4 separate regions of the Homo sapiens genome follow, and regions 1, 2 and 3 are each linked to region 4. Evidence: fine-mapped expression QTL. A gene starts in region 4. Each other region holds a variant in brackets. All regions are shown on one strand. Distances are from middle to middle. Region 1 overlaps PSEN1 (presenilin 1). Region 2 overlaps PSEN1 (presenilin 1). Region 3 overlaps PSEN1 (presenilin 1). Region 4 holds the start of PSEN1 (presenilin 1).

What was found. PIP is the estimated chance that this variant, and not a neighbour inherited with it, causes the effect.
Region 1: its variant is fine-mapped to the expression of PSEN1 in whole blood (TOPMed, PIP 0.91).
Region 2: its variant is fine-mapped to the expression of PSEN1 in whole blood (INTERVAL, PIP above 0.99).
Region 3: its variant is fine-mapped to the expression of PSEN1 in whole blood (TOPMed, PIP above 0.99).

The regions. Positions count from the first base shown.
Region 1 is chr14:73,204,003-73,206,502 of GRCh38, forward strand. PSEN1 (presenilin 1) reads left to right here. Exons shown (of 12, transcript NM_000021.4): 9 at 2,384-2,470. Among named protein-coding and RNA genes, the nearest start is that of PAPLN, 32 kb to the right of the region's middle. The variant T/A (reference allele first, on the strand shown) is at 1,133.
Region 2 is chr14:73,194,633-73,197,132 of GRCh38, forward strand. The region is part of intron 7 of PSEN1 (presenilin 1); the gene reads left to right. Among named protein-coding and RNA genes, the nearest start is that of PAPLN, 42 kb to the right of the region's middle. The variant C/T (reference allele first, on the strand shown) is at 1,289.
Region 3 is chr14:73,179,071-73,181,570 of GRCh38, forward strand. The region is part of intron 5 of PSEN1 (presenilin 1); the gene reads left to right. Among named protein-coding and RNA genes, the nearest start is that of PSEN1, 44 kb to the left of the region's middle. The variant G/A (reference allele first, on the strand shown) is at 1,455.
Region 4 is chr14:73,135,409-73,138,172 of GRCh38, forward strand. PSEN1 (presenilin 1) reads left to right here and starts at 1,099. Exons shown (of 12, transcript NM_000021.4): 1 at 1,099-1,175. RefSeq lists silencers at 879-958, 1,219-1,278 and an enhancer at 1,449-1,558.

The sequences.
Region 1 (2,500 bases), 68 kb after region 4:
ATTTTATTTTTTTGAGACAGAGTTTCGCTCTCATTGCCCAGGCTGGAGTGCAATGGCACGATCTCGGCTCACCACAGCCTCCGCCTCCTGGATTCAAGCAATTCTCCTGCCTCAGCCTCCCGAGTCGCCGGGATTATAGACATGCACCACCACACCGGGCTAATTTTGTATTTTTAGTAGAGACAGGGTTTCTCCATGTTGGTCAGGCTGGTCTTGAACTCCTGACCTCAGGTGATCCACCCACCTCCGACTCCCAAAGTGCTGGGATTACAGGTGTGAGCCACCATGCCTGGCCTTTTTTTTTTTTTTTAATTTAAACGAAATCTGCTTATTTTCCTGTTGATGTAAGGTGTTTGTGTTAAGGTGAAATGAAAAGTGATTTTTAAAAAAATATTATTTTAGGACTATTTAACAAATATACTATTTATGATAATTAACATGGGGTTAGCAAACTACTGCTTGAAGCCAAATATGGCCCATGGCTTGTTTTTGTACAGCTTATAAGCTAAAAATGCTTTTTACATTTAAAAAAAAAAAAAAAGAACAAGGAAGAATATGTGACACACAAAACCTGAAATGTTTACTCCCTGGCCATTTACAGAAAAAGTTAGCTGGACATTGATTTTCATGTTACTATTAACTGCTAAAACAAAGGAGCTTGTAGCTATATTTTTTCATACTTGCATAAAGAAAGAAAACCTAATAAATCGCTGGTGGCTTCATTTCCAAAAGGCTATGGAAATCCATAAACAGGCTGGGTGCAGTGGCTCATGCCTGTAATCCTAGCACTTTGGGAGGCTGAGGCGGGAGGATTGCTTGAGCCCAGGAGTTTGAGTCTGGCCTGGGCAACGTAGTGAGACCCTGTTTTTAGAAAAAATGAAGATAAAAAACTAATCCATAAACCTCATACTTGGTGGTTGCCCTTCAGTTTTTCTTCTTTAGATCTGGATTTAGTTAAACAGTGTATTGCCTGCCTGGTTTCTGTTAACTTTTGATCATTTGGTTGGGTTATCCTATAATGAAACTTGGTTGACCTCAGAAATAACAAGGTGGTCGTTCAGCTTCTTTGATTGTGTGTTTCTTTCATAAGTTCTTCAAGAAGCCTGAGTATTAGAAACATGGATAAAATTAT[T/A]GTGATAAAAAGCCAGAGAGACATAAATGTCAAGTATCTTGTTTAAAATTACTGTGACCAGGCCGGGCGTGGTGGCTCACGCCTGTAATCCCAGCACTTTGGGAGGCTGAGGCGGGCGGATCACGAGGTCAGGAGATCGAGACCATCCTGGCTAACACAGTGAAACCCCACCTCTACTAAAAAAAATACAAAAAATTAGCCAGGCATGGTGGCGGGCGCCTGTAGTCCCAGCTACTCGGGAGGCTGAGGCAGGAGAATGGCGTGAACCCAGGAGACGGAGCTTGCAGTGAGCCGAGATCATGCCACTGTACTCCAGCCTGGGTGACAGAGCAAGACTCTGTCTCAAAAAAAAAAAAAAAAAAAAAAATTACTGTGACCAGATTGGACTCAGCTTGCTGCTGGCATTTGGTTCCCACCATAACCTCATATGTCATGTGTTTGCTTATATGTACTTTTGTGTTATTGTTGGTGTATCTTCAGGATAAGTTCCAAAATGTAATATTGCTGGGTTAAAGGATTAATGCACATGTAGTTTTATTAGATGTTACCAAATTTCCCTCCAGTGGGGATTATACCATTTTTCATTCCTGCCTGAAATATATGAGAGAAGCACCATTTTAAAGTTTTCACAATGTCTCTGAACTAAAATGTGGTAGAGATGCACATGTGTATATCTAGATCTAGATTGATATATTGATATACATGTATTTTTGTAGAAGGGGCACAGAGGAGGCCTCTTGACTATCCCTATTATGTTTATTGCTTTTAACGTTTTTTCTCACGCCGGGTTTAAAACATGGTTTAGCATTATTGAACATTCTAAAAATGAGACATAATATGAAGGAAATTTACTCTGTGCATCTTTTGAATTATAATCACCATCTGAGGCTTTTGTGAGCTCCAGTTTGTCCTGGAATTTAGAACATTCAACTAGTCCAGCTATTGTTTCAGTGGAATCTTGCTGGCCTGAACAGTTTTCCTTCTGGTTCCTTTTCAGGGACTAAAAATGATGAAGAGTTTTGTGATAGCAGGTGCAGTTTGAGTACTACAGTAAACATTCAGTTTCAGAACTTCTTCTCTTACCTGCTAAAACCAAAGAGAACCTTTTTTTTATTTTTACTTCTGATTGTTGAACAGTCTTAAGGCAGCATTAGGAAGACTGGCGATTTGTGTGGAGAAATGATGGCTTGTTGTTGTCTATGCATACTTTGTGTGTCCAGTGCTTACCTGGAATTTTGTCTTTCCCAACAGCAACAATGGTGTGGTTGGTGAATATGGCAGAAGGAGACCCGGAAGCTCAAAGGAGAGTATCCAAAAATTCCAAGTATAATGCAGAAAGTAGGTAACTTTTATTAGATAATATCTTGA
Region 2 (2,500 bases), 59 kb after region 4:
ATCTTGGCTCACTGCAAGCTTCGCCTCCCAGGTTCATGCCGTTCTCCTGCCTCAGCCTCCCAAGTAGCTGGGACTACAGGCATCTGCCACCACGCCCGGCTATTTTTTTGTATTTGTAGTAGAGACGGGGTTTCACCATGTTAGCCAGGATGATCTCGATCTCCTGACCTCATGATTCACCTGCCTCGGCCTCCCAAAGTGTTGGGATTACAGGCATGAGCCACCGTGCCCGGCCTGGCCATACACTTTTGTCATTATTTACATACTTACTAAAATGTTTGGTGGCCTGTAATAGGAAACATCATCCTCATTTGATTGACGAAGAAGTCTGTGGAAATAGGATTGAACTGGTTCTGTTCTTGTATTTGAGTAATCAGTTGTGGAACTATAGAAGTCATATACTCTCTCTGACTTTCATAATTACCTTATGTTGTATAGTACTTGATGGTTTGCAAAGTAACCATCTATTCTTGCTTAGCTGTGAGTAAGAATGCCAGGTCTGGAGACAGAATGTCTGGGTTCAAATTCTACTCATCACTTTTTATTTTTATTTTTTTTGAGATAGAGTCTCGCTTTGTTGCCCAGGCTGGAGTGCAGTGGCGTGATCTCAGCTCACTACAACCTCTCCCTCCCGGGATCAAGCGATTCTCCTGCCTCAGCCTTCCGAGTAGCTGGGACTACAAGTGCGCACCACCACGCCCAGCTAATTTTTGTATTTTTAGTAGAGACGAGGTTTTGCCATGTTGGCCAGGCTGGTCTCAAACTCCTGACCTCAAGTGATCTGCCTGCCTCAGCCTCCCAGAGTGCTGGGATTACAGGCTTGAACCACTGCGCCCAGCCTACTCATCACTTACTAGCTATTTGACCACACAAGTTACTCAACTCCTATGTCAGTTATGAAGATTAAATTAAATGATCCATTTAATACAATAATACACTTAGAACAATGTCTATCAGTAAATTTTTTTCTGTTTTAAGAAACAGGATCTCACTCTGTCTCCCAGGCTGGAGTGAAGTGGCACGATTATAGCTCACTGTAGCTTCAAAAGCCTGGGCTCAAGCAGTCCTCCTGTCTCAGCCTCCCGAGTAGATAAGACTACAGGCACAGGTTGGTGTTGACCTCCTAGCTTCAAGCAGCCTCCCAAAGTGCTGAGATTACAGGTGTGAGCCACTATACCCAGCCCAGTGTTATATTTTTGTATAATCCTATGAAGTATCAAGGCAGTTATTATCCCTGTTTTACTGCTAAGAAACTTGAAGTTTACAGAGGTAAATTATTTGCCTAAGC[C/T]TAAACTCTGATCTCGAATCTGAATCCCAAGTCCAATATTCTTTTCACCGTATTACAATATTTTTACCATCAACCCTCCATTCTGTCTGCACATCATACAAATGAGTATCTCTACAGAGCTTTGAGTTGCTTTTAAACAAAAGAGATTTTTGTACCCAATGTTTAGAGTAGTGATTCTCGGCTCCATTTTTACAAGATTTCAAGATTTAATTTGTCAAAAAAGTTCTGAAATTTTCAAAGCAAAAGCAATTTTAATTTAATTGCTCTAAAAAATAAGCAGATTTATCATTTAGCAATTCTTTAAGGGAGAGTGTATCATAAAACTGAAATAGTACTGAATGTGGCAGAATCAAACAAGTTGAAAATCTCATCACTTCAGAGCAGGGCAGACTTCTCATTCAAACAAATTGAGGTAGAAGTGGTGAGAGTAGAGATTTCTTTGTGTATGTGTGTTTTATTACTGTACTATATTATATTATAGTTCTATATATACTATATTATATTGTACATATATATTATTATATGAAGAGACATGACCACTTTGAGGCATGAAATTTTTTTTTTTTTTTTTTTTTTTTTGAGGCACGGTCTTACTTTGTCACCTAGGCAGTGGCGCCATCTTGGCTCACTGCAGCCTCCACCTCCAGGGCTCAAGCAATCCTCCCACCTCAGCTTCCTGAGTAGCTGGGACTATAGGCACCTGCCACCATGAGCTGCTAATTTTTTGTATTTTTGGTAGAGACGGGGTTTTGCCATCTTGGCCAGGCTGGTCTCAAACTCCTGAGCACAAGTGATCTGCTGCCTCAGCCTCCCCAAAGTGCTGGAATTACAAGCATAAGCCACTGTGCCTGGCAAGACATGAAATTTTTAAATGTAAATGCATTTAAGTGACAATAATGTGAATACAAGTTATCAATTCTTCCTTTACAAGTTTAGCTATACCTGTTTTATATTTTTCAGTGTTTAAAATTATTTTTATATTTTTATATTCTGAATTTTCTTTCTTTCTTTCTTTTTTTTTTTTTTTTTTGAGACGGAGTCTCGCTGTATTGCCCAGGCTGGAGTGCAGTGGCGCAATCTCGGCGCACTGCAAGCTCCGCTTCCCGGGTTCACGCCGTTCTCCTGCCTCAGCCTCCCGAGTAGCTGGGACTACAGGCACGCGCCACCACACCCAGCTAATTTTTTGTATTTTTTAGTAGAGACAGGGTTTCA
Region 3 (2,500 bases), 44 kb after region 4:
GATCTCCATGTGGTTTCTTGGGCTTCCCTTTTCCATTCCTGCAGCCAAAAGTGGACTTTATCTTCCTAAAGTCAGGGCCAAAATGTGGGAGGAGAGAGAGAAATAAAGCAAGGGCTATTTGCCCCACTCTCTCGGGACTGACATTCTTCCAGTCAGAGTAAGGATTCCCTCCCTCTGAATTTTAGGCTTCTGCCACCCACATTACCATCACCACAGGATTGTGTGAGGACTGGGCATACGAGAATGGAGAAAAGCGGAAAAGAATGCCGGGTGTGGTGGCTCACGCCTGTAATCCTAACACTTTGGGAGGCCAAGGCGGGCAGATTGCCTGAGCTCATGAGTTTATGACCAGCCTGGGCAACACAGTGAAAACCTGTCTCTACTAAAATACAAAAAATTAGCCAGGCATGGTGGTGGGCACCTGTAGTTCCAGTTACTCAGGAGGCTGAGGCAGGAGTATTGCTTGAACCCGGGAGGCAGAGGTTGCAGTGAGCCAAGATCGTGCCACTGCACTCCAGCCTGAGCTACAGTGCGAGACTCTGTCTCCAAAAAAAAGGAAGAAAAACTGGATTTTTACACTGTCTGGGTGTTAGGAGACCTCTTTCCTGATCCTCAAGCCAGAACTAGAGGTCTTCTGGAGCTCCCATTGTCTTGCTAATGCCCACTCATGTTGTAATGAGCACAGGTGGAGGAAAAAAAGTGGTCAGCTCACTGCTAGTACTTCTAATTCCCCAGCCCACCTACCTCTCATTACTTTTCATCTTTTGCAACCAGCTGCTGCCTGCTTTCTGCCCAGGTTTTGTAACTGTATTCAGTGGGATAGAGAGAGTGGAAGGTACTTACTCCATCTTATCTGGAACCTTTCTTAATATATTTTTTGTCGCATTTGTACATCTTTTATCCATCCTTCATTTTATTTTATTTTTTTTTTTGAGACGGAGTCTCAGTCTCTCGCCCAGGCTGGAGTGTAGTGGCATGATCTTGGCTCACTGCAACCTCCGCCTCCTGGGTTCAAGTGATTCTCCTGCCTCAGCCTCCCAAGTAGTTGGGATTACTGGGACACGCCACCATGCCTGGGTAATTTTTGCATTTTTAGTAGAGATGAGGGTTCCCCATGTTGCCCAGGCTGGTCTCGAACTTCTGACCTCAGGTGATCCACTGGTTTCGGCCTCCCAAAGTGCTGGGACTACAGGCCTGAGCCACCACGCCCAGCCTTATCCTTCATTTTAGACAGTTTAAGAGGTTTGTATTCAGCCAGATCTCCACATTTACTTGTTCATTTGTGTTGTGATGTTTTTTAATGTTCAAGTCTTAGCACACACAAACAATTATATAGAAACAAGTTGTTTACTTTGACACCCAGTATAACTAAAAGGATCTTTTGAGTCAGAGATTGAGTAACTTGCCAGAGCCTGTTTGGAAATAAACCCTGAGGATTTTTCATATCAGTGGTT[G/A]GTTATGCAATGTCTGTGGCAAGCCCTAGAAACTAAAAGACCAAACCTTAAAATGTTAAAAACAGGAAAGGCAGTTAATTATTATACATAATTTGTTATAAAAGGAACTATAACTTATTAAAGTCAGATGATTTCTGGCCTTGATAGTTTAGGGTTTAGAGAAGATACTGTTGTGTACTATAAAACAGCAGGGCTGTTTTCTTTCATACCCTTTAGCACAGGAAAGCTGAACTAGGGATTTTTGCAAGATGAGAAAGGCCTGTTGAAATGTGTGTGTATAACATAGTAATAAAAGAAATGCATATGAAAATAACAAATTAACATATTTGACATATTGACTTTGTCAAGATTAGTCTTTTTTGTCAAGTAACTAAGCCAGTGTGTATTAATTAAATCAGTAATTAGAAAAAGTTTGTACACTTTGATTTAGTAATTTTGCTTTTATGATATATTCTAAAGAAGGAATTAGAAATGCAGAAAAATATTTGTGAAGTAGGATGTTCATTTTAATGTAAATTAAAATTGGGGAAAGAAAGGGAAAACAATACAGATTCCATGCATAAGGCAAAGGTTCAATTGTGGGTTTATCCGTATGAGTAGACTATTATTTTGTCATTTAAAAATCATAGTTTCAGCTGGGCGTGGTGGCTCACGCATGTAATCCCAGCACTTTAGGAGGCTGAGGTGGGCGGATCACCTGAGGTCAGAAGATCGAGACCAGCCTGACCAACATGGAGAAATCCTGTCTCTACTAAAAATACAAAAAAATTAGCTGGGCGTGGTGGCGAGTGCCTGTAATCCCAGCTACTCAGGAGGCTGAGGCAGGAGAATCGCTTGAATCTGGGGAGTGGAGGTTGCGGTGAGATTGCGCCATTGCCCTCCAGCCTGGGCAACAAGAGCAAAACTCCATCTCAAAATCAATCAATCAATCAGTCAATCAATCATAGTTTCACGCCAGGTGCAGTGGCACGGACCTGTAGACCCAGTTACTTGGGACCCTGAGACGAGATGATTGCTTGAGCCCAGGTTTTCCAGTCTAGCCTGGG
Region 4 (2,764 bases):
GAGTCTTGCTCTGTCTCCCAGGCTGGAGTGCAGTGGTGTGATCTCAGCTCACGGGTTCAAGCGATTCTCCTGCTGCAGCCTCCCGAGTAGCTGGGATTACAGGAGCGCGCCACCACACCCGGCTAATTTTTTTGTATTTTTAGTAGAGACGGGGTTTCACCATGTTGGTTAGGCTGGTCTAGAACTCCCAACCTCATGATCCGCCTGCTTCGGCCTCCCAAAGTGCCGGAATTACAGGCGTGAGCGACTGCACCCGGCCGCTTGGGGGTGGATTTTTAAAGAAACTTTAGAAGAATGTAACTTGCCCAGATACCATGTACCGTTAATTTCATTTTCGGTTTTTTGAATACCCATGTTTGACATTTCTCCGTTCACCTTGATTAAATAAGGTAGTATTCATTTTTTAGTTTTAGCTTTTGGATATATGTGTAAGTGTGGTATGCTGTCTAATGAATTAGACATTGGTACTGTCTTTACCAAAACTGGACAAAGAGCAGGCAGATGCAAAAATCAAGTGACCCAGCAAACCAGACACATTTTCTGCTCTCAGCTAGCTTGCCACCTAGAAAGACTGGTTGTCAAAGTTGGAGTCCAAGAATCGCGGAGGATGTTTAAAATGCAGTTTCTCAGGTTCTCGCCACCCACCAGAAGTTTTGATTCATTGAGTGGTGGGAGAGGGCAGAGATATTTGCGATTTTAACAGCATTCTCTTGATTGTGATGCAGCTGGTTCGCAAATAGGTACCCTAAAGAAATGACAGGTGTTAAATTTAGGATGGCCATCGCTTGTATGCCGGGAGAAGCACACGCTGGGCCCAATTTATATAGGGGCTTTCGTCCTCAGCTCGAGCAGCCTCAGAACCCCGACAACCCACGCCAGCGCTCTGGGCGGATTCCGTCAGGTGGGGAAGGCCAGGTGGAGCTCTGGGTTCTCCCCGCAATCGTTTCTCCAGGCCGGAGGCCCCGCCCCCTTCCTCCTGGCTCCTCCCCTCCTCCGTGGGCCGGCCGCCAACGACGCCAGAGCCGGAAATGACGACAACGGTGAGGGTTCTCGGGCGGGGCCTGGGACAGGCAGCTCCGGGGTCCGCGGTTTCACATCGGAAACAAAACAGCGGCTGGTCTGGAAGGAACCTGAGCTACGAGCCGCGGCGGCAGCGGGGCGGCGGGGAAGCGTATGTGCGTGATGGGGAGTCCGGGCAAGCCAGGAAGGCACCGCGGACATGGGCGGCCGCGGGCAGGGCCCGGCCCTTTGTGGCCGCCCGGGCCGCGAAGCCGGTGTCCTAAAAGATGAGGGGCGGGGCGCGGCCGGTTGGGGCTGGGGAACCCCGTGTGGGAAACCAGGAGGGGCGGCCCGTTTCTCGGGCTTCGGGCGCGGCCGGGTGGAGAGAGATTCCGGGGAGCCTTGGTCCGGAAATGCTGTTTGCTCGAAGACGTCTCAGGGCGCAGGTGCCTTGGGCCGGGATTAGTAGCCGTCTGAACTGGAGTGGAGTAGGAGAAAGAGGAAGCGTCTTGGGCTGGGTCTGCTTGAGCAACTGGTGAAACTCCGCGCCTCACGCCCCGGGTGTGTCCTTGTCCAGGGGCGACGAGCATTCTGGGCGAAGTCCGCACGCCTCTTGTTCGAGGCGGAAGACGGGGTCTGATGCTTTCTCCTTGGTCGGGACTGTCTCGAGGCATGCATGTCCAGTGACTCTTGTGTTTGCTGCTGCTTCCCTCTCAGATTCTTCTCACCGTTGTGGTCAGCTCTGCTTTAGGCATATTAATCCATAGTGGAGGCTGGGATGGGTGAGAGAATTGAGGTGACTTTTCCATAATTCAGGTGAGATGTGATTAGAGTTCGATCTGCGGTGGTGGCAGAGGCTTACAAGAAACACTAACGGGACATGGGAACCAATTGAGGATCAGGGAATAAAGTGTGAAGTTGACTAGGAGGTTTTCAGTTTAGAACATGGCAGAGACATTCTCAGAAATAAGGAAGTTAGGAAGAAAGACCTGGTTTAGAGAGGAGGGCGAGGAAGTGGTTTGGAAGTGTCACTTTGGAAGTGCCAGCAGGTGAAAATGCCCTGTGAACAGGACTGGAGCTGAAAACAGGAATCAATTCCATAGATTTCCAGTTGATGTTGGAGCAGTGGAGAAGTCTAAGCTAAGGAAGGGGAAGAGGAGGCCAAGGCAAACACTTAGGAACACTTGCAACGAGGGGGTGGAAGAAGAGCAAGGAGCCAGCTGAGGAGAATGAGTGTGGTTGGAGAACCACCACAGCGCAGGGTCGCCAGAGCTGAGGAAGGGGAGGGAAGCTTCAGGAAGGAAAAGGTTGGCAGGGATTTTGAGTGTTAGGCCTGGTGTAGCAGAAGGAACAGAAGATTTAGAGCAGCGCTAGCCAATAGAAATAAAATGTGAGGCCCGGGGCGGTGGCTCACGCCTGTAATCCCAGCACTTTGGGAGGCCGCGGGGCGGATCCTTGAGCTGAGGAGTTCGAGACCAGACAACACGGCGAAACCCCGGCTCTACAAAAAATTAGCTGGGCGTGGGGGCGCGCGCCTGTAGTCCCAGCTGCTCCCAAGCGAGGCTGAGGCAGGAGAATCACTTGAACCCGGGAGAAGGAGGTTGCAGTAAGCCAAGATTATGCCACTGCACTGCAGCCTGGGCAAAAGAGTGAGACTGTCTCAAAAAAAAAAAAAACCTGTTTTGTTTTTCTTTTGGAGAAAAGGCATACAAATTTATTAGCATGCAGACTGGGAGAACCACAAGGTGATTATCCCTATTTTAAA